Regions from separate parts of the Homo sapiens genome. Here all the other regions are linked to region 3. Evidence: fine-mapped expression QTL. A gene starts in region 3. Each other region holds a variant in brackets. All regions are shown on one strand. Distances are from middle to middle. Region 1 overlaps MYH11 (myosin heavy chain 11). Region 2 overlaps NDE1 (nudE neurodevelopment protein 1). Region 3 holds the start of NDE1 (nudE neurodevelopment protein 1). Region 4 overlaps MYH11 (myosin heavy chain 11). Region 5 overlaps NDE1 (nudE neurodevelopment protein 1).

Region 1 (5,101 bases), 86 kb before region 3:
GGACAAACTGGCACGAGATGAGAAATGGCCAGTTTTTGGAAATTGTTATGGGACTTCTCTTTACCATTTAAAACTCTAGTTGTATTTTGTTATAATGTGGGTTTTTCTTTCAACTGTTTACATGGAAATCACTAAAAGTGAAACATAGATTCTAGAGAAAAGAAAAATCCTAAAGCTATCTCTTTCTCTTTCCCCAAAAAGGAACGAAAACTCCTTGAGGAGAGGATTAGTGACTTAACGACAAATCTTGCAGAAGAGGAAGAAAAGGCCAAGAATCTTACCAAGCTGAAAAACAAGCATGAATCTATGATTTCAGAACTGGAAGGTAAACCAGCTACCAAGAGATTTATTTTTATTTTATTTTATTATTTTTTTTAGAGATGAGGTCTTGCTCTGTTGCCCAGGCTGCAGTGCAGTGGTGCGATCATGGCTCACTGCAGCCCGAAACTCCTAAGCTCCAGTGATCCTCCTGCCTCAGCCTCCTGAGCAGCTGAGACTACAGGCGTGCATCACCACACCCAGCTAATTTTTTTTTATTTTTTATTTTGTAGAGATGGGGTTTCACTATGATGCTCAGTCTAGTCTCAAACTCCTGGGCCCAAGCAGTCCTCCCACCTTGGCCTCCCAAAGTGCTGGGATTATAGGCATGAGCCACTATTCCTGGGCTTGAATGGGTATTTTTAAAAGCAGGAAAATCAGAAAGGAAATTTGAGGATGGCAGATCATCCCATGAGTGACAACTAACTCTATGCCACCTCTCGAAATCACCCTTAGTCATCACATGCACTAATAATATGATAAAAGGGCTGGGTGCGGTGGCTCTCGCCTGTAATCCCAGCACTTTGGGAGGCCGAGGTGGGCGGATCACGAGGTCAAGAGTTGGAGACCAGCCTGGCCAACATGGTGAAACCCTGTCTCAAAATACAAAAATTAGCCAGGCGTGGTGGCGGGCGCCTGTAATCCCAGCTACTCGGGAGGCTGAGGCAGGAGAATTGCTTGAACCCGGGAGGCGGAGGTTGCAGTGAGCTGAGATTGCGCCACTGCACTCCAGCCTGGGCAACAAGAGCAAAACTCCATCTCAACTAATAATAATATTATGACAATATAAGGTGCTGTTCATCGGGAGATAATGGTCCAGACCGTGACTATGATGGTTACTGATTGGGGGATGTGTTCATCTCCTCCGGGTAAAATGCCTGGGCAGGAAGGCTCATTTCCGGGCATCTCTCTGGGGCCTCCCCTTCCTGAAGAGCACCTTGGTTTTTGCAGTGCGGCTAAAGAAGGAAGAGAAGAGCCGACAGGAGCTGGAGAAGCTGAAACGGAAGCTGGAGGGTGATGCCAGCGACTTCCACGAGCAGATCGCTGACCTCCAGGCGCAGATCGCAGAGCTCAAGATGCAGCTGGCCAAGAAGGAGGAGGAGCTGCAGGCGGCCCTGGCCAGGTAGCGGGGCTGGCAAGGGGCATTTGCTGTGTGTCCATGTATCCCCTGGGCCCCTGCTCATTCGCTCATTCGCAGTGGCTGTCTTGGTCAAGGCGGCCCCAGGCCCTTGGCATGAACTTCGTTTCCCAGGCCAGGCCTCCCACAAGCCTTCTCGACCCTGTTCACTCCCCCAGATCCTCACCTTCGACTTTCTTCTCTTCCCTGCAAACACATCATGTCTTTGCAGTTGATCTCACCTACTCCCATGGTGTTGCTGCTGCCTCTTCGACATCCAGGCTTTTCTCATCTAGACCCCCTTCTGAATTTCCGATTGCCCAATGAGTCAATTTCCACCGTCATCTCAAACACCCCTGTCTAAGGCGGGAATGACCTTCCTTTCCCCAGCCCCTCCCTCTAAGGGCCCTCTTTTTTGTGAACACCAATCTCCTCCTTTGTTTCTGCCGACCCACAGCAAGCAGCAACCTTCAGATTCTGCCAGTCCTTCTAAATGTCCCCCACCCATTTCCTCTGGTTTTTCCCTCTTCCTGGCTCTTAGCTGGATTTACACTAATGCTAATACTGCAGCAGCCA[C/G]TATGAATGATTATTTACCTGCTCACTCGGTGCTAAGTTCTTTTCAAGCAATACCTTTGCAGACACCTGGCCAGGTGTACTGCCGGTGTCTTTGAGGAGGAAGCTGAGCCTCCTAGGGGTAACGCAACAGGAGCAATGTCATTGCTTCTAAGAGGCAGAGCTGGGATTTAAGCCTCAAAGCTTTCTGATTGATCCCCTGGCCTGGCTCTTTTGTCGGCCAATTTGTGCTATGTTGACAGTGCTACGGTGATGAAGGGAAAGCATCTCTCTGGGGCAGGAACCTGCTCACAAAACTTTGCTGGCTGGATGCAGTGGCTCACGCCTGTAATCTCAGCACTTTGGGAAGCCGAGGTGGGGGGATTGCTTGAGGCCAGCAGTTTGAGACCAACATGGGCAACATAGCAAGACCCTGTCCCTACAAAAAGTTAAAAAATGAGCCAGGCATGGTGGTGTGTGCCTGTAGTCCCAGCTACTCAGGAGGCTGAGATGGGAGGATCACTTGAGCCCAGGAGGTTGAGGCTAAAGTGAGCTATGATCATGCCACTGCACTCCAGCCTGGGCAACAGAGCAAGACCCTGTCTCAAAACAATAATAACAACAAAACAAAAACCTAACTTCACTGGCTTACTAGGGAAAATCCAGTTTCCTTAGCCTCACCCTCAGAGCCCATCCACCCTCTGCAGTCTCACCCCAACCCAACTATTTCACTTTCTCTCTTGTTGCTGCCCTTTCACAAGTACAGTAAAATCAAAGTGCTTGCCTCTCCTGCAGCATTCTGCCATTTAACAGGGCTTCTTGCAGCCCACCTTGATCTCTGGTCACCACCTCCACCAGATGCAGAGCCCCAGTCTGAATATCCCCCGCAAGCAGTGGCTGGCCAAATGCTGTGCATGGGGCGGGTACTCAGTCACTGAGCAAATGCAGAAAGAACAGACAGTTGCCAGGGAAGAAGAACTGTCCAACATTCAGAAAGCATCTACACAGTCCCTACTGTGACCAGGTACCTTGCCAGTCTGGGGTCAATGCTTTGCATTCTTGCACACACATGCACACACGTGCATACACACGTACACACACCCATGCACATGTACAACCTGTTTTGATGTCAGACCTTGGCACTCACATCCTATGTTAATCTCATATAGTCTGGCATGTCAAGAAGCAGACCTGGGGACATGGATAGAAGGTGTTTGATGTCTCTGCAACATAACTGTCTGGTCCCAGAAAAGTTTTTGGCCACATTGTAAGAGAGGAAACCAAGGGACCTGGGGGTTCATTCTGCTGGGTCTCTCCCTGGAAGGCTTGACGATGAAATCGCTCAGAAGAACAATGCCCTGAAGAAGATCCGGGAGCTGGAGGGCCACATCTCAGACCTCCAGGAGGACCTGGACTCAGAGCGGGCCGCCAGGAACAAGGCTGAAAAGCAGAAGCGAGACCTCGGCGAGGAGCTGGAGGCCCTAAAGACAGAGCTGGAAGACACACTGGACAGCACAGCCACTCAGCAGGAGCTCAGGTGAGGGGCCCATCAATCCCACCATCCTGCTATCCCACTGCACCAATGGGATGGGGGCAGAAGAGGGGACAAACCCAAAGCAAATCGTGCATCAGCCCCTGTGCATTTACCTTCCTGGCCGCGGTTTGCTTTAACTTATAGAAGCATGGTTGGCTGTTTCTTTTTTTTCTTTCTTTTTTTTTTTTTTTTGAGGCAGTCTGGCTTTGTTGCCTAGGCTGGAGTGCAGTTGTGCCATCTTGGCTCACTGCAACCTCCACCTCTGAGATTTAAGCGATTCTCATGCCTCAGCCTCCTGAGTAGCTGGGATTACAGGTATGTGCCACCACACCCGGCTAATTTTTTGTTTTTAGTAGAGATGGAGTTTTGCCATGTTGCCCAGGCTGGACTTGAACTCCTGGCCTCAAGTGATCCACCCACTTCCGCCTCCCAAACTGCTGGTATTACATGTGTGAGCCACTGCACCCGACCCTCATCATCTTATTTCTCATCAGAAGAGTAGTATATACCAGGGATGTACAATCTTTTGGCTTCCCTTGGCCACATTGGAAGAAAAAGATTTGTCTTGGGCCACACATAAGATACACTAACACTAATAATAGCTGATCAACTAAAAAAATTTTACAAATTGGAAAAAACATCTCATACTGTTTTAAGAAAGTTTATGACTCTGTGTCAGGCTGCATTCAAAACCATCCTCATTGGTAAGCTTGGATATACTCAGAGAACAATTTGAAAACTATAGAAAAGCAGACATAAAAAAAAATCACCTTTAGGGTCGGGCTCACGCCTATAATCTCAGCACTTTGGGAGGCCAAAGACAGGTGGATCACTTGAGGTCAGGAGTTCAAGACCAGCCTGGCCAACATGGTGAAACCCTGTCTCTACTATAAATCCAAAAATTACCTGGGCGTGGTGGCGCATGCCTGTAAATCCCAGCTACTCAGGAGGCTGAGGCAGTAGAGTCACTTGAATCTGGGAGGCAGAGGTTGCAGTGAGCTGAGATCGCACCATCGCACTCCAGCCTGGGTGACACAGTGAGTGAGACTCCATCTCAAAAAAAAACAAAAAACAAAAAAATCACCCTTAGTCACACCAGTTAACATTCTTGAGAAATTCCTTCCTGTCTGTGTGTGTATCAGTCAGTCCCCAAGCTCCAATTCCCAAGTATGTGTGTGTATCACTTTTGTGTTAAATTTTAAAAATAAAATTGATCAGATTGGTTTTCAATTGAAGATTCACTTCAAATGAACAAACAATAACAAACTGCCTGCCAGATCACGAATCCTGACTCTAGTGAAACTAGGTCATTGATTCATTCAGTAAACACATAAATGTATTTTGATGCAATCTGTGGTGTTGGCATAGCATGTATCATAGCATATAGCTATGCTAGCTGTGCCAACACCATATACCCTGGGGTTTACTTCCCCCACTTTGGGTTTTGTGCAGTGTCACATGCACATAGAGCACAGCGTTCTGCTCCCTTGCCGCTTGGCCTTTGATACAGAAGAGCCCAGTGCATGGGCCAGGTATGGTGGCTCATGCCTGTAATCCCAGCACTTTGGGAGGCTGAAGCA
Region 2 (5,100 bases), 78 kb before region 3:
GGCCTCCCAAAGTGCTGAGATGACAGGTGTGAGCCACTGCACCACCCTGAGATTGGGTAATTTCTAAAGAAGAGAGGTTTAATTGGCTCACGGTTCTGCAGGCTGTACAGAAAGCATAGCAGCTTCTGCTTCTGGGGAGGCCTCAGGAAACTTACCATCATGGTGGAAGGCAACGGGGAGGCAGGCATGTTTTACATGACCAGAGCAGGCAGAAGAGAGAGAATGGGGAGCTGCCAGACACTTTTAAACAACCAGATCTCATGAGGGCAGCACCAAAGGGATAGTGCTAAACCATTAGAAACTGCCCCCAAAGGCCGGGCGCGGTGGCTCATGCTTATAATCCCAGCACTTTGGGAGGCTGAGATAGGCGGATCACCAAGTCAGGAGTTCAAGACTAGCCTGACCAACATAGTGAAACCCCATCTCTACTAAAAATACATAAAATTAGGCTGGGTGCAGTGGCTCACGCCTGTAATCCCAGCACTTTGGGAGCCCGAGGCAGGCAGATCACCTGAGGTCAGGAGTTTGAGACCAGTCTGGCCAACATGGCAAAACCCCGTCTCTACTAAAAATACAAAAATTAGCTGGACGTGGTGGCGGTCGCCTGTAATCCCAGCTACTTGGGAGGCTGAGACATGAAAATCACTTGAACCCAGGAGGTAAAGGTTGCAGTGAGCCAAGATTGTGCCACTGCACCCCAGCCTGGGCAACAGAGTGAGACTCAGTTTCAAAAAAAAAAAAAAAAAATTATGGTTGGAAGAGTGAGGCCCCAGACAGAATCACTGACCCTCCCCATGCTTGGGGTTCATTAGACGTGAACAGGAGCTAGAAGCCAAGCCCATTCCCAGCCAGGCCTCTTTGGGAAGACGCAGTTATTAAGACCACCAGCAGACGGCATGTCCATTACTGACCCGCACAAAGCAGGTAGAGGTGCAAACCTCTGCCCATCTCAGGTGCAGGGAAACAGAGGCCTTTGCCTCTAACAACTTGAATTCTGATGTAGAGACCTGGTTCCATCTGCTTGTGGGGGAAACGTTTAACATCAGCTCCTACCTGGGCTCCCCAGGCCCTCGTGCGGTTTGGCCCCAGTTCTGGGGTCTTAGGCTGGGCTAAGGTTTCTGGGAGCCCATGTCCCCTAGGGTCCCCGCTTCACTGCTTTGTTACCACCAAGAGACTCCCTGTCCCCATCTGAGGTCTGGCAGCTCTTAGTCATGTCTTGGAGGGAGGACGGGCATCCAGGGCTGACCGGTCAACGTCCAGCACCTCCCAGGGACTATGGGAAGACTGAGTGGTGGGTCTCGTCCTCTCGGGATACTTGCGCTTCTCTTTCCCCTTCTCTACAACCTGGAAAGAAGCCCCTCACCGCGTCCTACTTTTGCCCAACACGCTTTTTTTTTTGAGACAAAGTCTCACTCTGTCGCCCAGGCTGGAGTGCACTGGCGGGATCTCGGCTCACTGCAACCCCCGCCTCCTGGGTTCAGGCAATTCTCCTGCTTCAGCCTCCTCAGCAGCTGGGATTACAGGTGACTGCCACCATGCCCGGCTAATTTTTATATTTTTAGTAGAGACGGGGTTTCACCATGTTGGCCAGGCTGGTCTCAAACTCCTGACCTCAAGTGACCTGCCTGCATAGGCCTCCCAAAGTGCTGGGATTCTAGGCCTGAGCCACCGCGCCTGGCCCCAACACACTTTTTTTTTCCTGTAGGGCAACTCACATGCCTACAGGAGCTGGTTCCATAAAATAAGTTTCCCTTAACTAGGACAGAAGTAGCAGTGTCAATCACACGACACCTGTGAAGGACGGGGGCGGTGAAAGGTGACTGCCCCACCTGCAGAGCCAGCCGCTACTTAGATGTGGCAGATTGTTGCCTTGAAGGAAAGCAAGACCCTCTGTTTCCAGATCTTTCGTTGTTGTTGGTTTTTTGTTTTTGTTTTTAAGTTTAGGATTACTGAGGCATATGTAGTAAAATTTATCCATTTTACTGCTCCATTAATTTTAACAAATGTGTATTGTGTAACTACCACCACCACAGTCACCACATAGAATGTTAGTTATTGATTGATTGATTGAGATGGAGT[C/G]TCACTCTGTTACCCAGGCTGGAATGCAGTGGCATGATCTTGGTTCACTGCAACCTCCACCTCCCAGGTTCAAGCAATACTTGTGCCTTAGCCACCCCAGTAGCTGGGACTACAGGCGTGCGCCACCATGCCCGGCTAATTTTTCCATTTTTAGTAGAGATGCAGTTTCGCCATGTTGGCCAGGCTGGTCTCGAACTCCTCACCTCAAGTGATCCACCTGCCTTGGCCTCCCAAAGCTACTTATTTCTGAAACAGGGTCTCACTTTGTTGCCCAGGCTGGAGTGCAGTGGTGTGATCATAGCTCACTGCAGCCTCCAATTCCTGGGCTCAAGCAAGCCTGCCATCCGCCTCCTGAGTAGCTGGGATTGCTGGTGTGTGCCCCCCACACCCAGCTAATGTTTTATTTTAGTAGAGATGGGGGTCTCACTACATTGCCCAGGCTGGTCTTGTACTCCTGGCCTTAAGCGATCCTTCTGCCTGCTTCCCAAAGTGCTGGGGATGACAAGTATGAGCTGCCATGGCATGCCTTCAAACATTAAAGTTTTTTGAAAAAGAAGCTGGGAATCCAGATTTTTATGTGACATTTATTAAAATGTCGGCAACTCATTTTTTTAAAAGTAGTGAAAGGGTCAAAGGGGACATGTCAGCAGGTTGGATACCGCTTGTGGGATTCCAGATTGCAACCCATGAGCTTTAGGAAAATAGAATCCAAAATATCAGCTGGGTGCGGCAGCTCACGCCTGTAATCCCAGCACTTAGGGAGGCCAAGATGGGTGGATCACTTGAGGTCAGGAGTTCGAGAGCAGCCTGGCTAACATGGTGAAACCTCGTCTCTACTAAAAATACAAAAATTAGTCGGGCATGGTGGCGGGCGCCTGTAATCCCAGCTACTTGGGCAGCTGAGGCAGGAGAATAGTTTGAACCTGGGAGGCGGAGGTTGCAGTGAGCCAAGATTGTGCCACGGCACTCCAGCCTGGGTAACAGAGTTAAGACTCCATCTCAAAAAAAAAATAACAACAAAAAAACCCCAAATCTCTTACTGGTGATTGTGTGCCCCCTGTTGTGTGCCTTCCTGGACCTCTCTGAGGGAGGAAAGGGCAGGGCCTGAAACGTTCTCCCGGCCACAGCCTCCCTGTTATCCCTCCCCTCTGCTTCCTTCGCCAGGCCAAGGCGAACCTAGACAAGAATAAGCAGACGCTGGAGAAAGAGAACGCAGACCTGGCCGGGGAGCTGCGGGTCCTGGGCCAGGCCAAGCAGGAGGTGGAACATAAGAAGAAGAAGCTGGAGGCGCAGGTGCAGGAGCTGCAGTCCAAGTGCAGCGATGGGGAGCGGGCCCGGGCGGAGCTCAATGACAAAGTCCACAAGCTGCAGGTGAGGAGGTGGCGCGGTGGTGTGGTGGGCAGTGCTGGGTGGTGCCCAGTTCTGTGGGGAGGAGCCTCTTCCCGGCTCGCTGAGGTCTCTCTTGCTGCAAGGCAAGTCCTTTCCTCTAGTTGCGTTCCTGGAGGAGAGGCGATGATCTCCCTGTTCAATTAAATATTAAAAAAACCTTCTGGCCAGGCACGGTGGCTCATGCCTGTAATCCCAGCACTTTGGGAGACAGAGGTGGGTGGATCACCTGAGGTCAGGGGTTTGAGACCAGTCTGGCCAACATGGTGAAAAGTCTCTACTAAAAATACAAAAATTAGCCAGGCGTGGTCGTGGGCACCTGTAGTCCCATCTACTCGGGAGGCTGAGGCAGGAGAATAGCTTGAACCCAGGAGGCAGAGGTTGCAGTGTGCGGAGACCGCACCATTGTACTCCAGCCTGGGCTAAAAGGGCAAAACTCTGTCTCAGGAAAAAAAAAAAAAAAGAAAAAAAACCCTTCCTTTTCCAATTTGATAAGTATTTATTGAGCACCTGCTGTATGCCAGGCACTGTGCTTAATCCTGAGATCCAACAGCAAGGAAGAAGAGACACTGTCGCTGCCCCAGTAGGACTCCAGCCGAGTAAGGGGAAGGGAAGGGAAGGGAAAGACATGAATAATCACACAAATGAATGTCAAATGATGCAGCAAAGGGAAGGCACATGATGCCCAAGTGTAAATAACCAGGGGGCCTAACCTGGGGGAGGAGGAGCCACGAAAGGCTTCCCTAAGGAGCATGGATAAGTCTACCAGGCAGAGGGAACAGCGTGTGCAAAGGCCCTGTGGTAAGTAGAAAAATTAGGAGAGAGACATACAGCCAGTAGAGCTGGAGTGCCCAGCTGGGGTTGGGGGTAGGGGGAGATAGTACAGAGTGGGGTTGGAGGGGGAGCTTGTACCCAGATGATGTAGGGCTTTTGAGAACCTATTACATGTATGTTGATCCTTACTCTGGGCAATGTGAAGCTGTTGAGGGGTTTTAAGCTGCTGAATGACATGGTCTTTTTGTCTTTGGTCTTCTTTCACTTGGCATAGCCATTTACCCTGCCTTGCCACTCATGGGGACGTGGCCAAAGTTTTCACAAATGTTTAACATGTCCACAGCCAGGGACCAAGGGGCGAGGGAAGAATTAAGTGAGATGTTTTTTTCTCACATGCAGTTGAGAGCAGGGCTTTTGCCGCCCTCATATAAGCAGTGTCAAGATCATTCATATCCTCCTTGTCAATGGAAGAGATGGAGGGGTAGGCTAACAGCCTCAAAGGGACTTATGCAGAGACACTAGGGAGTAAAAGCCAGAGAATACAGAGAGGACGTTTTTACCTTTAGGGCCTGCGTCTCTGGCTTTGGCCATCAGGGTCAAAGAGTAGGAGTGAGGAAGGAAGGGATGGGACAGCATCCCTGGGACGTTCAAGTACCATCCTGGTCTCCCTTCTCCAGCCTTAGAGAGTGGACCAGCCAGAGCACCTCGTCTGGACTCTCAGACCTGCTGCTTTGTCTCTACCAACCTTGGCAGGGATCTAGGATCCATTTAGTGGGATCAGGTCCCAGTCAATACCATTGGGGCTCAAATAAGTTCTTAGAACCACAGAGTCTAGGGCCAGGGTCCCAACTCATAGGTGAC
Region 3 (5,101 bases):
ACTGAACCAAGTGACAGGGAAAGAATTTTTCCTACTGTGGTTTTGCCTCCTCCAACCCTTTTCAAACATTTCTTGAATACCTACTAAGTGCTGGGCACTGCTGAAGGAGGCAGACAAAAAGCACCCACATCCATTGCACGAGGTGCACGTGTAGTACTAACTGCAGGCACAAACTTTCTGTACACAGGAATGCTCATGTTAGGAAATTACCTTGTGAGGAAAAGGAGTGTCAATTCTCGGCTCACATTCTAAGGCAAAAGAACACACTTTGGGCTGCATGCAGTGGCTCATGCCTGCAAGTAATCTCAGCACTGTGGGAGGCCAAGGCAGGAGGACTGCTTGAGCCCAGGAATTTGAGACCAGCCTGGGCAACAAAGCAAGATTCTGCCTCTACATAAAAAATAATAATAATGATAGAGTCGGGTGCAGTGGCTCATGCCTGTAATCCCAACACTTTGGGAGGCTGAGGTGGGCAGATCACGAGGTCAGAAGTTTGAGACCAGCCTGGCCAATATGGTGAAACCCCATCTCTACTAAGAATTAGCCGGGCATGGTGGCACGCACCTGTAATCCCAGCTACTCAGGAGGGTGAGGCAGAAGAATCACTTGAACCCGGAGGACTGAGGTTGCAGTGAGTCGAGATCATGCCACTGCACTCCAGCCTGGACAAGAACAAGACTCCGTCTCAAAATAAATAAATAAATAAATAATAAATAACACACTTTGGAAACAAAAATAAGTCAAGTTAATAAACTGTTATCCAACATGGGATAAAATATATGAATCACAGGCCCCTGAGACTTCAGCGGCACAGATCATCTGCATTTAATCCTACACAAAACACACACTAAGAGGAAAGGCTCAAAATGGGTTGTAGGCCGGCACGGTGGCTCACGCCTGTAATCCCAGCACTTTGGGAGGCCGAGGGGGCAGATCACGAGGTCAGGAAATCGAGACCATCCTGGCTAACACGGTGAAACCCCATCTCTACTAAAAATACAAAAAATTAGCCAGGCGTGGTGGCACGCACCTGTAGTCCCAGCTACTCCGGAGGCTGAGGCAGGAGAATCGCTTGAACCCGGGAAGCGGAGGTTGCAGTGAGCCAAAATCGCACCACTGCACTCCAACCTGGGCGAGAGTGAGACTCTGTCTCAAAAACAAAAACAAAAAAAAAAAAAAAAAAACGGGTTGTATACCAACGAGGTGATGGAGGCTGGGGTGGTCGGGTAACAAGAGGCTTTAGGAGTAGCTGGGATCTAATTAATCTTCAAAACACCCGACCCATGTCCTAAAATGCCATCCTATGCTAGAATACACTATAACAAAACTAAAAATGATGAACCTGCCTAGGTCGTGCTGCAAAGGCCTTTTCTTTAGAAAGTTAAAAGGGGCCTGAGGCTCAAAGTAGAAATTAAGAGGCACAACCTGGTAGTAACCACGGACAAAGCAATCAAGGAAGCTCAGGCCCTCAGGAGGCAGAAAGCCTGAGATGGCTCGGAGAAGATAAAGTCGCCTCCCCAAAAGCGGTGTCAAGGTGACAGCGGGGTTTCCCAGGACCTCAGAGACTCAGGTCCTCAGTGAGCCCAGCCATCACTCAAGCTGCGGAATAAGCATTTTCGTCCTTTACCCAATCCCTCCCCAAAGTGCTGTCAGAAGAAACCTGAACCGTCCTGCGGCAGAGACGGGAGCAAAGCGGAGAGCAGACTGCCCCAAACGTGTTCCCGGAGGGAGGGAGCAGGGTGGGTTTTTGGAAAGAGGCCTGCAGGGGCGGGACAGTGGGTGTGAGGGCAGGGGCAACGCTGCAATCGAGGGGTCTGGGGTCGCAGAGAAGCGGGTGGCAGGATGGAGGAATAGGAGAGAGAGAGAAAAGAAACGAGGGTCATCTAGGAGAGGAGTATGGGGAGGAAGGAAGAGGAGAAAGAGGATGGAGCCTGGCAGCGGGGTTTGGGGACCGGCAAGGCTTAACCACCCAGGAAGTCCCGGAAGGAGAAGAGGGCAACGGGGTGGGAGAGAGACCAACGCAGAAAGAGAAACAAAGTTGCCAAGGGCGAGGGGCCAGCGCGAGGAACGCACCGGTGGCAAGGCACTCAGTGCCTAACTTTTTAGGACGGGAGGCTCCAGGGAGGCGGGATTTTGGAGCCCAGGGACCGGGGGAGTCCAGGCGGCCGGGAAGCGACGCGCAAGCGAGGGGCGTAGGGGTCCCTGCCAGGCGGTGGCCCGGGGTCCCGGGATCCTGGGGCGGGGCAGAGGAGCTTTTCAGCCGCGGTGGAGGTCCCCGGACAGCCACCCCGACCCCAGCCCCGCGCAGCGCCTCACTTACCCGAGCAGGGGCGGCGAGGCCAACGCGGCGGCGGCGGCAGAGGCGGCTGCGAAGGGCGGTGCGGCCCCGGCCCTCCGGACCCCGCCCCCGCCCCGGAGCCTGCGGTCGGCGCCTCCCATTGGCTGCTGCTCTACGGTACCGCGTCCGCCTCGGCCAATCAGCGCAGAGCAGCGTCGTTTGGAAACTTTTTTCCCAGGCCGGGCGCGGCGCGGCCAAGCGGCGAAGGCTCCTGGCCGGAGGGGGTTTGAGAGGCGCCGGCTGCCGGGCGCTGGGCTGCGGCGGGCTGGCGGGCATTGGAGATGCTGCAGAACGCTGCCTGGACACCCGGGAAACGGGTTTGGGCTTGCGGGCCGCGCATTTCAGGAAAATACGCCGGCCTCTCCTTCACTTCGATTGCATTTTCCCATTCTTGCACTTTCTCCAAATCAGAAGGAAAGACAAAGATTCAGGCCCACTGAAGCTAGCAGTGCCCCGTGCCCTTCCTACTCCTTTACACCAAAAGTAGAATCTTCAGCATCATTATCTTCTCCAGAAGCAGGAGAACGTAGTGCACCAGAATTTGGTCATAAACTTGGCTTTGAGTCCTAGTCCTGCCCCTTACTAACTGTGTGGTCTTGGGAAAGTTGTTTAGCCTCTATGACTCCGTTTCCCCATCTATAAAACGCCATTATGGGTCTGGCGCGGTGGTCACGCCTGTAATCCCAGCACTTTGGGAGGCCAAGGCGGGTGGATCACGAGGTCAGGAGTTCAAGACCAGCCTGGCACATGGTGAAACCCCGTCTCTACTAAAGATACAAAAAATTAGCCGGATGTGGTGGCACGCACCTGTAATCCCAGCTACTCAGGAGGCTGAGGCAGGAGAATCACGGGAAACCGGGAGGTGGCGGTTGCAGTGAGCCGAGATCACACCACTGCACTCTAGCCTAGGCGACAGGGCAAGACTCCGTCTTAAAGAACAGACAAACAAACAAACGACATTATGCAGAGGACTAAATGACTTAACAGCATTTGTAAAAACGTTTAGAACAGAAATTTGAACTTAGTAAGTACAATATATGTATTTGTTAAATGATCTTGATTTTGTTTATTTATTTATTTTGAGATGAAATCTCCCTCTGTCTCCCAGGCTGGAATGCAGTGGCGTGATCTCCACTCACTGCAACCTCTGCCTTCTGAGTTCAAGCAATTCTCCTGCTTCAGCCTCCCGAGTAGCTGGGATCACAGGCCCGCATCACCACACCCGGCTAATTTTTATATTTTTAGTAGAGACGGGGTTTCACCATGTTGGCCAGGCTGCTCTCGAATCCCTGTCCTCAGGTGATCCACCCACCTCGGCCTCCCAAAGTCCTGGGATTACAGGCGTGAGCCACCACACACTGCCTGAAGATCGTGATTTTTAAATGGCTGTGTGTGCCAGGCACAATTCTCACAGCAACCCTAATTGTTCACTAACAAATTAAAATTAAAAAATAATTTTTTTCTTTTCGAGACAGAGTTTCCCTCTTGTTGCCCAGGCTGGCGTGCAATGGTGCGATCTCGGCTCACTGCAACCTCTGCCTCCCAGATTCAAGCGATTTTCTTGTCTTAGTCTCCCTAGTAGCTGGGATTACAGGCGCCCACCATTACGCCCAGCTAATTTTTTGTATTTTTAGTAGAGACACGGTTTCACTGTGTTGGCCAGGCTGGTCTCGAACTCCTGACCTCAAGCAATACACCTCAGTCTCCCAAAGTGCTGGGATTACAGGCGTGAGCCATGTAACTCAGAAGGCAGAGGTTGCGGTGAGTGGAGATCACGCCACTGCATTCCAGCCTGGGAGACAGAGGGAGACTTCATCTCAAAATAAATAAATAAATAAAATCAAGCCACCATGCTTGGCTGGAATTTCTTTTTTTCTTTATTTTCTTCTAAAACATCCTGTCATAACATGTTCATTAACAAATACCGAACATTCTGGTTAGTGGGTACAAAAATAGAGTTAGAATGAATAAGATCTAGTATTTGGGAGCACAGCAGGGTGACTACAGTCCACAACAATGTATTGTACATTTTAAAATAACTAAAGGAGTATAATTGGAGTGCTTGTAACACAAAGAAAGGATAAATGCTTGAGGTCATGGACACCCATTTACCCTGATGTGATTATGATGCATTGCATGCCTGTTATCAAAATATCTCATGTACCCCATAAATATAAACACCTACAGTGTACCCATAAAAACTAAAAATATATATATTATTATCCAGCTTTTTTTTTTTTTTGTGAGACAGAGTCTCACCCTGTGACATAGGCTGGAGTGCAGTGGCATAATCAAAGCTCACTGCATCCTGGACCTCCCAGGCTCAAGTGATCCTCCCACCTCATCCTCCGGAGTAGCTAGGACCACAGGTGTGCACCAACACGCCCAGCTAATTTTTACATTTTTTTGTAGAGACGTGGATCTCACTATGTTGCCCAGGCTGGTCTTGAACTCCTGGGCTCAAGTGATCCTCCTGCCTCAGCCTCCCTCCCAAAGTGCTGGGATTATAGGCATGAACCACAGCACCCGGCATTATGAGCATTCTTCTGTACAATGCACCCTTACAGCACAGTGAATACAGTCAGACAAAGTACCTGTCCTCAAAGGGCTTATATTGTTAAGAGAGAAACATACTAAATCTATAAGCAGAAAAAGTAACGTCATTTCAGATACTGATAAGTGCTATGACTAAGGCAAGCCCATTTGATACAACGGGCTGGGAGGGGTCACTTCAGATGCTATAGTCAGGGAAGGCCACTGTAG
Region 4 (5,101 bases), 93 kb before region 3:
GCCAGGCATGGTTGTGGGCACCTGTAATCCAAGCTACTCAGGAGGCTGAAGCAGGAGAATCACTTGAACCCCGGAGGTGGAGTTTGCAGTGAGCTGAGATCGTGCCACCGCACTCCAGCCTGGGCAACAAGAGCGAAACTCTATCTCAAAAAAAAAAAAAAAAAAAAAAGAAAGAAAGAAAAAAGAAACAGCTAGTGCAGCTGGGGAGTACGGGAGCCCCCTTAGGAATGATGCACATAGTTGTGTTTTCTGAGTGGTGTTTGGATCTCAGCTAAGTCCAGGGCATGTTGTGAGCCCTGGGTCTTCCTTGTCCACTGAAAAAGGCTCTGTCCTGTAGATGATTTAAGTTGTTTGCAGCCAGACAACACATGTGTCACACAGGGTTTCTGGAAGAACCTGAGTTGGGGAGATTGGGGCATGTCCCTGTGCAGGTTCAGGATGCTGCAGGGCAGGGCTCTGTTGACAGCAGGGTGTGGCTTCATGACCCCCGCACCTTCTCTTCCCCCCTCCCTAGGGCTTTTGCCAAGAGGCAGCAGCAGCTGACCGCCATGAAGGTGATTCAGAGGAACTGCGCCGCCTACCTCAAGCTGCGGAACTGGCAGTGGTGGAGGCTTTTCACCAAAGTGAGTGCTCTGCCCCAGCCCCCTTCCCAGGGGCCCCCAGCCCTGCTTCTTCACTCTGGAGCCTTCACATTTGGGACAGGAGGTGGTCGCAAGTGGGTGTGGAATGGAGGGCTCGAACTCAGACCTTGAGCATTGGCGGTTCTCTGGCCCGAGGAGGCCCTGTCCTTTGGCACATAGGCTATAGCCAGGACCTTAACACAAAGTATTAATATTTCCATCCGCACTGGAATCCCTCGTGTGGCCCATTTATAGCCACACCCACTTCCTCCGTAGCCATGGAAACCACTCTGTTCTCCAGTTCTGTAATTTTGATGGTTCAAGAATGCTGCCGGGGGCGGCGGCTCACGCCTGTAATCCCAGCACTTTGGGAGGCCGAGGCAGGCGGATCACTTGCGGTCAGGAGTTCAAAACCAGCCTGGCCAACATGGCAAAACCCTGTCTCTACTTAAAATACAAAAATTAGCTGGGTATGGTGGCAGGCACCTGTAATCCCAGATACTCAGGAGGCTAAGGCAGGAGAATCTCTTGAACTCAGGAGACAGAGGTTGCAGTGAGCCAAGATCATGCCTGCACTCCAGCCTGGGTGAAAGATTGAGACTCTGTCTCTTCTTTCTTTTTTTTTTTATTTAAAAAAAAGGCCAGGCACGGTGGCTCACGGCTGTAATCCCAGCACTTTGGGAGGCCGAGGCGGGTGGATCACAAAGTCAAGAAATCAAGACCATCCTGGCCAAGATGGTGAAACCCTGTCTCTACTAAATGTACAAAAATTAGCTGGGCGTGGTGGCAAACGCCTGTAGTCACAGCTACTCAGGAGGCTGAGGCAAGAGAATCACTTGAACCTGGGAGGCAGAGGTTGCAGAGAGCTGAGATCGCGCCACTGTACTGCACTCCAGCCTGGTGACAGAGCGAGACTCCGTCTCAAAAAAAAATAAAACAAATATTCTATACATGGAATTAGAGAGCATCCAGACTGTTGCATGTATCAATACTGCAGGTTTTTTTTTTTTTACTTTTTGCATTTTTTGAAATGGAGTCTCACTCTGTTACCCAGGCTGGTCTTGAACTCCTGACCTCAAGCAACCCTCCTGCTTCAGGCTCCCAAAGTGCTGGGATTACAGGCATGAGCCACCTCATCTGGCCATAGCATATTATTTTTTATTTCTGGCAGAGTCAGGGCCTCCAGAGGACTCAACTGGTTCCTGTAGTGGCACTGGTTGCATTGTCCCCATGGCACAAAGACATGCTCTGTTGCAATAGACTAGGCTTCTCCTTATATGCCCTTGAGTGTATCCACTGGTGCAAGGCTTTTTCACCAAGCAAACAGACATTGAGTGCCTGCTGTATCCCAGGCACATGCTAGGTGCTGGGGGTGCAGCTGTGAACACACACCATGGTCCCTGACCTCCATGAATATTCTAGCCGAATTGGTGGGGAGTAAACAATAAACAGATAATCACAGAGACAGATACATAATGGCAAACTGTGATAAGTGCATGAAGCAAGCTGCTGGAGTACATAGCAGGGGCTTCCTTGTGCCAGGCAGGGGCTTGAAAACAAAGAGTTAGGAGGCAGCCCAGGGAAGGACAGCAGATGCTGCTTTTTGGAAATGTTCGTCCCCACTGAACCAACTTCTGAAAAACTATCCTAAGAAAATCGTCTTAGCCAGGTGTGGTGGCTCATGCCTGTAATCCCAGCACTTTGGGTGGCCAAGGCAGGAGGATCACCTGGGTTCACGAGTTCGAAACCAGCCTGGCCAACATGGCGAAACCCTATCTCTACTGAAAATACAAAAATTAGCCAGGTGTGGTGGTGGGCACCTGTAATCCCAGCTACTCAGGAGATTGAGGCAGGAGAATCACTTGAACCGAGGAGGCAGAGGTTTCAGTGAGCTGAGATCGTGCCACTGCACTCCAGCCTGGGTGACAGGGCGAGACTCCACCTGAAAAAGAGAAAAGAAAATCAAGAGTTAAGGGCATTCATTATGGCCTTATTTACAATAGCAGAATTTCAGTGTCCAGTCCTAGCTGAATGATGAGTTCAATAATGGTTCATCTATCAATGGAATGTTTTCAGCTATTAAAATGATGGCTTTGGCTACTGAATAGGTCTGCTAAAAAAAAAAAAAAAAAAGACTTCTACCTAGCTGTCTAGTTGGACACTGTGGCATGTGCCTGTAGTCCCAGCTACTCTGGAGCTGGGGTGGGAGGATCGCTTGAGGCCAGGAGTTCAAGGCTGCAGTGAGCTATGATTGTGTCACTGCACTCCAGCCTGGGTGACAAAACAAGACCATCGCTAAATAAATAAATTAACTTAAAAGATGGCTATGTAAAGTTGTAAGAATGATGTAACAGCATGGGGTAATACATATCTTATAATTTTTAAAAAAATTTTATTTGTGGAGACAGGGTCTCACTGTGTCACCCAGGCTGGAGTGCAGTGGCACAATCGTGGCTCACTGCAGCCTCAGCCTGCAGGGTTCAAGCGATCTTCCTGCCTCAGACCCCTCACTAG[C/G]TGGGACTACAGGCACACACCACCATGCCTGGTTACTTGTTTTTGTAGAGATGGGGTCTCATGATGTTGCCCAGGCTGGTCCCAAACTCCTGGGCTCAAGCGCTTGCCTCGGCCTCCCAAAATGCTGGGATTACAGGCATGCATCACTGTTCCTGTCTGTATCATATAATTTTAAATAATAAAAGCAGCCTCTACAACTAGGCAGCATGGTCTTAAGTCTATTTTTTAAACATAGAAAAAGAGCCAGGAAGGAAATGTAAACAATGTTAATAATGACTTTGATAGGGAGGTGGGTGGGATATGAAAGATTTTTTTTCTCCCTTTTGTCCTTGGAAGGAAATATCACTTTTCAGCAGTAGTTCTCTGTTGGGATGGTTCTAAAGTGGGGAAGATGAGACTTTTTCCTTTCACTTTGTACCTTTTCTGGTGCTCTGATTTAGAGCTCCTCAGTCTTGCCACTGTTGATATTTTGGGGTGACTAATTCTGTTGTGGGGGCTGTCCTGTGCACTGTAGGGTGTTTAGCAGTATCCCTGGCCTCTACCCACTGGATGCCAGAGGCACCCCCCACCCCAGCTGTGACAATCAGCAGTGTCTCCAGACAATATCCCCTAGTGGGGATCGGTGGGGGCAACATTGTCCCTGGCTCGGAACCACTGATCGAATTTATTATGACAACATATCCCTTTGCCACAAAAACAAATGATGGGCTAACCGTGTGTGTGCAGGTGAAGCCACTGCTGCAGGTGACACGGCAGGAGGAGGAGATGCAGGCCAAGGAGGATGAACTGCAGAAGACCAAGGAGCGGCAGCAGAAGGCAGAGAATGAGCTTAAGGAGCTGGAACAGAAGCACTCGCAGGTACCTGTATGGATGCATGGCTGGGGTTGCTGGGGAACAGGACTTGGCCCCGTGGGGCTCACCCGCCTCCTCCCCACCACCTGCGTGCAGCTGACCGAGGAGAAGAACCTGCTACAGGAACAGCTGCAGGCAGAGACAGAGCTGTATGCAGAGGCTGAGGAGATGCGGGTGCGGCTGGCGGCCAAGAAGCAGGAGCTGGAGGAGATACTGCATGAGATGGAGGCCCGCCTGGAGGAGGAGGAAGACAGGGGCCAGCAGCTACAGGCTGAAAGGAAGAAGATGGCCCAGCAGATGCTGGTAAGGTGTCACAGGGGCAGCCCGTGGTGGGTAGCAAATCACTTGACCCTCACCACAGGCCTGTGGAGGTGCATCCAGGGATATGTGTCCCTGCTGGGACAGATGATGAGACGGGGGCTTGGAGAGGGTTGGTCATCTGATCAAGGCCACACAGCTGGGATTGGGACTGGAACACAGTGAGCCCACTCTGTTCTATTGCCCTGCCTTGCATGTGCTAACCCCTTTTCTCCTAACAGCAAGCCTGAATGGAGGATAATTGTATTTGTTAGCTATTGCTACATAACAAAACATGCCAAACTCAGCAGCTAAAAATAAAAAGTATTGCATAGTCAGGAATTTGAGAGTGGCTTAGGTGAGTGGTTCTGGCTGAGGGTCCGGCCTGAGGTTGCAGTCAAGGTGTTGGCTGAGGCTGCAGTCATCTGAAGGCTCATCTGGGGCTGGAGGACCCACTTCTACTTGGCTTATTCACACAGCTGTTGGAGGAGGCCTCAGTTCCTTATCATGAAGGCCTCTCCCCTCAGGGCTGCTTGAGTGTCCTTCCAATATGGCAGCAGAGTTCCCCCAGAAGGAGTGATCTGAGAGAGGAGAAAGGAAGCCGCAATGCCTTTTATAGCCTAATCTCTGAAGTTACATTCCATCACTTCTTCCTGATTTTTGTTGTTGTTGTTAGAAGCAAATCTAACCCCCACTCAAGGGGAGGAGAATTAGGCTCCACCTTTTTGGAGTCGCAAAGAACTTGTGGATAGATTTTAAAACCACCATGGTACCTACTGTGCTCATTTTATAGATGAGGAGGTTGAGGTTCCATGAAG
Region 5 (5,101 bases), 46 kb before region 3:
AGATAGGGTTTCACCATGTTGCCCAGTTTGGTCTTGTGAACTCCTGGCCTCAAGTGATCCACCCACTTCTGCCTCCCAAAGTGCTGGGATTACAGGTGTGAGCCACTTCACTGCACCTGGCCTAAAAATCCACGTGTAAAGGTCTCAAAGTTATGTGCATGCCATGGAAAATATTCTTAATTTCCTGTCACGTGTCTGCTACAAACCCATCAAATTCCTACGGCTTGGGGCCCAGAGAGATGGTAGTCACACACCTTGCAGAATTCCTGAATCTGAAAGCTGCCCCTTTTTTTTCTGAGACAAGGTCTCGCTTCATCACCCAGGCTGGAGTGCAGTGGCTGGGAACACGGCTCACTGCGGCCTCAACCTCCAGAGCTCAATTGATCCGCTGCCCTCAGCCTCCCAAAGTGCTGGGATTACAAGTGTGAGCCACTGAGCCTGGCCCTGATTTTCTTTAGGCAAGAAAATTAATGACACTGTTAGAGATCAGATCTGCACTGTCCCATCGGGTGGCTGGTTTCAGGAACATAGTCTGGGCTAGAAGTTAGTGCCAGTTTCTCAAAGGTTCTACAGATTTAAAAAGAAAAAAAAGGGCTGGTTGCAGTGGCTCACGCCTGTAATCCCAGCACTTTGAGAGGCCGAGGTGGGTGGATCACAATGTCACGAGATCAAGACCATCCTAACACAGTGAAACCCCGTCTCGACTAAAAATACAAAAAATTAGCTGGGCATGGTGGCACACGCCTGTAATCCCAGCTACTCAGGAGGCTGAGGCAGGAGAATTGCTTGGACTTGGGAGGCAGAGGTTGCAGTGAGCTGAGATCATGCCACTACACTCCAGCCTAGGCGACAGAGCAAGACGTCTCAAAAAAAAAACAAAACAAAACAAAAAAAAAAACTTCAGGGGAAGCAGAGCCATGACTGATGCTCAATTCCCCAAATAAGGGCTTTATTTTTATTTAACTAATTAATTAACTTTTTGATATGGAGTCTTGCTCTGTCACCCAGGCTGCTGTGCAGAGGCACAATTTTGGCTCACTGCAATCTCTGCCTCCAGGGTTCAAGTGATTCTCCTTCCTCAGCCTCCTGAGTAGCTGGGACTATAGGCACATGCTACCATGCCTGGCTCATTTTTCTATTTTTTTTGGTGGAGATGGGGTTTTACCAATGTTGCCCAGACTGGTTTTGAACTCCTGACCTCAAGTGATCCACCTGCCTTGGCCTCCCAGACTGCTGGGATTACAGGCGAGCGTCACCACACCTGGCCCAAATAAGGGCTTTTATACAGGACATTCTCACAGTGTAACCGTGAGTAGCAGCTGTAGAATCAAATGATAAAAATGACCTTCTTGGCCAGGCATGGTAGCCCACACCTGTCGTCGCAGCACTTTGGGAGGATGAAGGGTGAGGATCACTTGAAGCTCAGAGTTTGAGACCAAACTCGGCAACATGGCAAAACCTGTCTCTAGAAAAAATACAAAAAATTAGCCGAGCACGGTGACACGCACCTGTACTCCCAGCTACTCGGGGGACTGAGGTGGGAGGATCGTTTGAGCTGGGAGGCAGAGGGTGAGCCATGATCCTGCCATCGTATTCTAGCCTAGGTGACAGAGTGAGACCCTGTCTCACAAAACAAGACCCTCTCTCTAGCCCTTTGTTCAAGCCACAAGACACCACCTAATGCTGCCTGCAGGGAGCAGAGGAGAGGATAAGGTTTGCTGAAATAATCCTATAATTTAAAAAGACACATGGCTGTGGGCTGGGGGTGAGTGTCTCTTGCCTGGGGCAGGCGGGTTCTCCCCGCCAGCGAGAGGTTTATTAGAAGGTACTGACCCCTTATCACCCAAAGGCACGCTGGTGCTGCTTGGCCGTCTCTCCCCGCCATCTCTGTTCTTGCTGCTCCGCCCAGAGGCTGGGCCACCTGTTCGGTTTGGGGACTGATCGTACACGAGGTTCCGGCAGGAAGCGAGTTTGGACTCCAGTGCCTGGACAGAAATACACTTTTATCTCTCAAGTTATAGGCAAGGACTATTCTGTCTTACCAGAGCCTGTACAGAAGAACGAACCCCAGACAGTGGTTCTCAAACTGTTGTGCACTGGAATTCCAAGGTGGGACCCCAAGAGGAATCCAACGTATATGCCAGTCTCAGAACCAAGCACCTTAAGTATTTGGGAGCTGGCTGGGCACAATGGCTCACACCTATAATCCCAGCACTCTGGGAGGCCAAGGCAGGAGGATGGCTTGACATCAGGAGTTTGAGACCAGCCTGGGCCACAAAGTAAGATCCCATCTCAGTTTTTTTTTTTGTTTTGTTTTTTACTTTTTTAGACGCTGTGTCACCCAGGCTGGAGTGCACTGGTGAGATCACAGCTCACTGCAGCCTCAACCTCCCAGGCTCAACCAATCCCTCCCACCTCAGCCTCCTGAGCAGCTGGAATTATAGGCATCCGCAATCATGCCCAGTTAATAAAAAAAATTTTTAATGCAAAAAATTTTTTTTAATTACGAAAAATTTTTTAAAATGTTTGGGAGCTGCCTGGAAAAAGATCACGGCTCACTGCAGCCTCAACCAATCCTTCCACCTCAGCCTCCTGAATAGCTAGGACTATGCACAATCATGCTTGGCTTAAAAAAAAAAAAAA[AAT/T]TCTTTTTTAATTACAAAAAATTTTTTAAAATGGGAGCTTTCTGGAAAAATCACTAACCTACCAATTATCCAACTCCGCTTGTAGGAAGTAGGAAATCCACTTCTGGAATCCTTCACCCTTTGGTTTACCTTGTTAAACCTCTGCAGAATGGCAAGAAGTTTGGTAAGGACTTGGTCTGGCTACAACAGACCCTGAGGAAACCAAAAGGACACTGACAGCACCCCAGGCTTCTCTATACTCCAACTAGGCTAAATACTGAAATGCAGACCTGCTTCTAGAATAGCAAACCAGACAGCCAAAAACCAGAAGTAAAAACAAAAGAAATGAGTTGCAAGCTTCTATTAAGTTGTAGCTACAAATACACTGTGTACAGTGACAACTTGGTAGGAGTTAAATTATGTGGCCTTCTAGGCATCATTTTTAAAAATAAACTACAAAGAATACCTATGTTTTTACTTAAGCACAAAAGGATCCCTCCCTGTAATTAACATAAAAGCTGAAAGGCCAAATTCTTTGCCCTAGGCTTTCAAGATTTTTTTTTTTTTTTTTTTTGAGACCAAGTCTCACTTTGTCACCCAGCGGTGCGATCTCAGCTCACTGCAACCTCCGCCTCCCGGATTCAAACAATTTTCCTGCATAAGCCTCTCAAGTAGCTGGGATCGCAGGTGCCCACCACCATTCCTGGCTAATTTTTGTATTTTTAGTAGAGATGGGGTTTCACCATGTTGGCCAGGCTGGTCTTGAATTCCTGACTTCAGGTGATCCACCCATCTCGGTCTCCCAAAGTGTCAAAATTCACTTAAACCCCAAGAAACAAACCAAAAAAAAAAAAAAAAAAAAAAAAGGTGGCAGTTTTTTTCTCTTCTGAGACAACGTCGTGCTGTCACCCAGGATGGAGTGCAGTGTTGGAATCTCAGCTCACTCAGCCTCAACCTCCCAGGCTGAAGCAATCCTCCCACCTCTCAGCCTCCTGAGTAGCTGGGACCACCAGTGTACACCATCAGGCCTGGCTAATTTTTGCATTCTTGTAGAGGCCAAGTCGGGGCAGGGGGTTTCACCATGTTGCCCGGGCTGGTGTCAGACTCCTGAGCTCAAGTAATCTCCCACCTTGGCCTCCCAAAGCACTGGGATTACAGGTATGAGCACCCGGCCAAAAGAGAAGGCAGTTTCCAAGTGCTCCTTAATTTTTCGAGTTAAGGAAAAAACACACATATCACCCTAATTTCCCAAATTTCCTAGAGGAAAAACGGTAAAAGGAAAGAGACATACATAGGGTTCAGAGCAGGGCTTCGAGTCAGAGCTCTGAGTGTCTGGCAGTAACTCCCACAGGAAGCTCTAATGATTCCCAGGGATGCTAAAGGAGCAGCCACACCTAAAACTCACCACACTGCTATGAAAGGGGCTGGACGCATTGGCTCATGCCTGTAATCCCAGAACTTTGGGAGGCCAACCTGGGAGGATCACTTGAGGCCAGGAGTTTAAGACCAGCCTGGGCAACACAGCGATACCCACATTACTACAAAAAAATGAAAGTATCAGCCAGGCATAGTGGCGCACACCTGTGGTCCAAGCTCCTCGGGAAGCTAAGGTGAGAGGATCGCTTGAACCCAGGATTTTGAGGCTGCAGTGAGTTGTGATCATACCACTACACTCCAGCCTGAGCAACAGAGCAAGACCCTGTCTCTAAAAAAAAAGAAAAAAAGAAGAGAGGGAAGGAACTAGATCAACCCCCTTCACACATCCTGAAAGACAGGCAGGAAGGCACCAAACGCCAGGAAAGTGTGGTCTTACCCCGACTTTCCGCAGTAGGTCTCCCACAATGTTGAGGGCTGATATCCGGGCCGCAGGTGTGAGGGGGGTCCCCCCGGTGGAGTCGTCCAGGCCTGGGTGTGCAAAGGGAAGAGCATGTAACTCACCAACCTATAGTCATGTCTGTGCGTTAACATCGCTAGATCCAAAACCACGGGACAGGAGGGACACTGACGCCTTTCCTCGGATCCCAAAAGCTACCCTATTTCTTTCCGTAGTTAACCGCATCACACACCCAAGGCCCGTATGACAACCAATTTTTCAAGTCCTTGTGATGACTGCAACAAATACTTATTTTTACATGTTAGTCTTGCTCTGTCACCCGGACTGGAGTGCGGTGATGTGATCTCAGCTCACTGCAACCTCCGCCTCCCAGGTTCAAGCGATTCTCCTGCCTTGGCCTCTTGAGTAGCTGGGATTATAGCCATGTGCCACCACACCCGGCTAATTTTTGTATTTTTAGTAGAGACAGAGTTCCATCACGTTGTCCAGGCTGGTCTCGAACTCTTGACCTCAAATGATCTGCCCGCCTTGGCCTCCAAAAGTGCTGGGATTACGGGCGTGAGCCACCATGCCTGGCCTTTAACAAATTTTTTTTTTAATAGAGACAGGGTCTCACTATGTTGCCCAGGCTGATCATGAACTC

Evidence for each region. PIP is the estimated chance that this variant, and not a neighbour inherited with it, causes the effect. A credible set is the group of variants that fine-mapping cannot tell apart.
Region 1: its variant is the best candidate, but not a certain one, in a credible set for the expression of NDE1 in whole blood (INTERVAL, PIP 0.90).
Region 2: its variant is the best candidate, but not a certain one, in a credible set for the expression of NDE1 in lymphoblastoid cells (GTEx, PIP 0.73).
Region 4: its variant is the best candidate, but not a certain one, in a credible set for the expression of NDE1 in whole blood (TOPMed, PIP 0.80).
Region 5: its variant is the best candidate, but not a certain one, in a credible set for the expression of NDE1 in monocytes after Pam3CSK4 (Quach 2016, PIP 0.59).

What each region holds. Positions count from the first base shown.
Region 1 is chr16:15,733,789-15,738,889 of GRCh38, reverse strand. It overlaps MYH11 (myosin heavy chain 11), which reads left to right. Exons shown (of 41, transcript NM_002474.3): 24 at 202-325; 25 at 1,270-1,441; 26 at 3,312-3,524. Among named protein-coding and RNA genes, the nearest start is that of NDE1, 86 kb to the right of the region's middle. RefSeq lists an enhancer at 1,712-2,468. The variant C/G (reference allele first, on the strand shown) is at 2,012.
Region 2 is chr16:15,725,198-15,730,297 of GRCh38, reverse strand. It overlaps NDE1 (nudE neurodevelopment protein 1), which reads right to left. Exons shown (of 9, transcript NM_017668.3): 9 at 3,945-5,100. MYH11 (myosin heavy chain 11) reads left to right here. Exons shown (of 41, transcript NM_002474.3): 28 at 3,244-3,450. Among named protein-coding and RNA genes, the nearest start is that of NDE1, 78 kb to the right of the region's middle. The variant C/G (reference allele first, on the strand shown) is at 2,080.
Region 3 is chr16:15,647,514-15,652,614 of GRCh38, reverse strand. NDE1 (nudE neurodevelopment protein 1) reads right to left here and starts at 2,370. Exons shown (of 9, transcript NM_017668.3): 1 at 2,321-2,370. RefSeq lists enhancers at 1,668-2,167, 2,168-2,669.
Region 4 is chr16:15,740,651-15,745,751 of GRCh38, reverse strand. MYH11 (myosin heavy chain 11) reads left to right here. Exons shown (of 41, transcript NM_002474.3): 20 at 515-623; 21 at 3,861-3,992; 22 at 4,083-4,289. Among named protein-coding and RNA genes, the nearest start is that of NDE1, 93 kb to the right of the region's middle. The variant C/G (reference allele first, on the strand shown) is at 3,135.
Region 5 is chr16:15,693,593-15,698,693 of GRCh38, reverse strand. NDE1 (nudE neurodevelopment protein 1) reads right to left here. Exons shown (of 9, transcript NM_017668.3): 7 at 4,438-4,529; 8 at 1,834-1,985. Among named protein-coding and RNA genes, the nearest start is that of NDE1, 46 kb to the right of the region's middle. The variant AAT/T (reference allele first, on the strand shown) is at 2,644.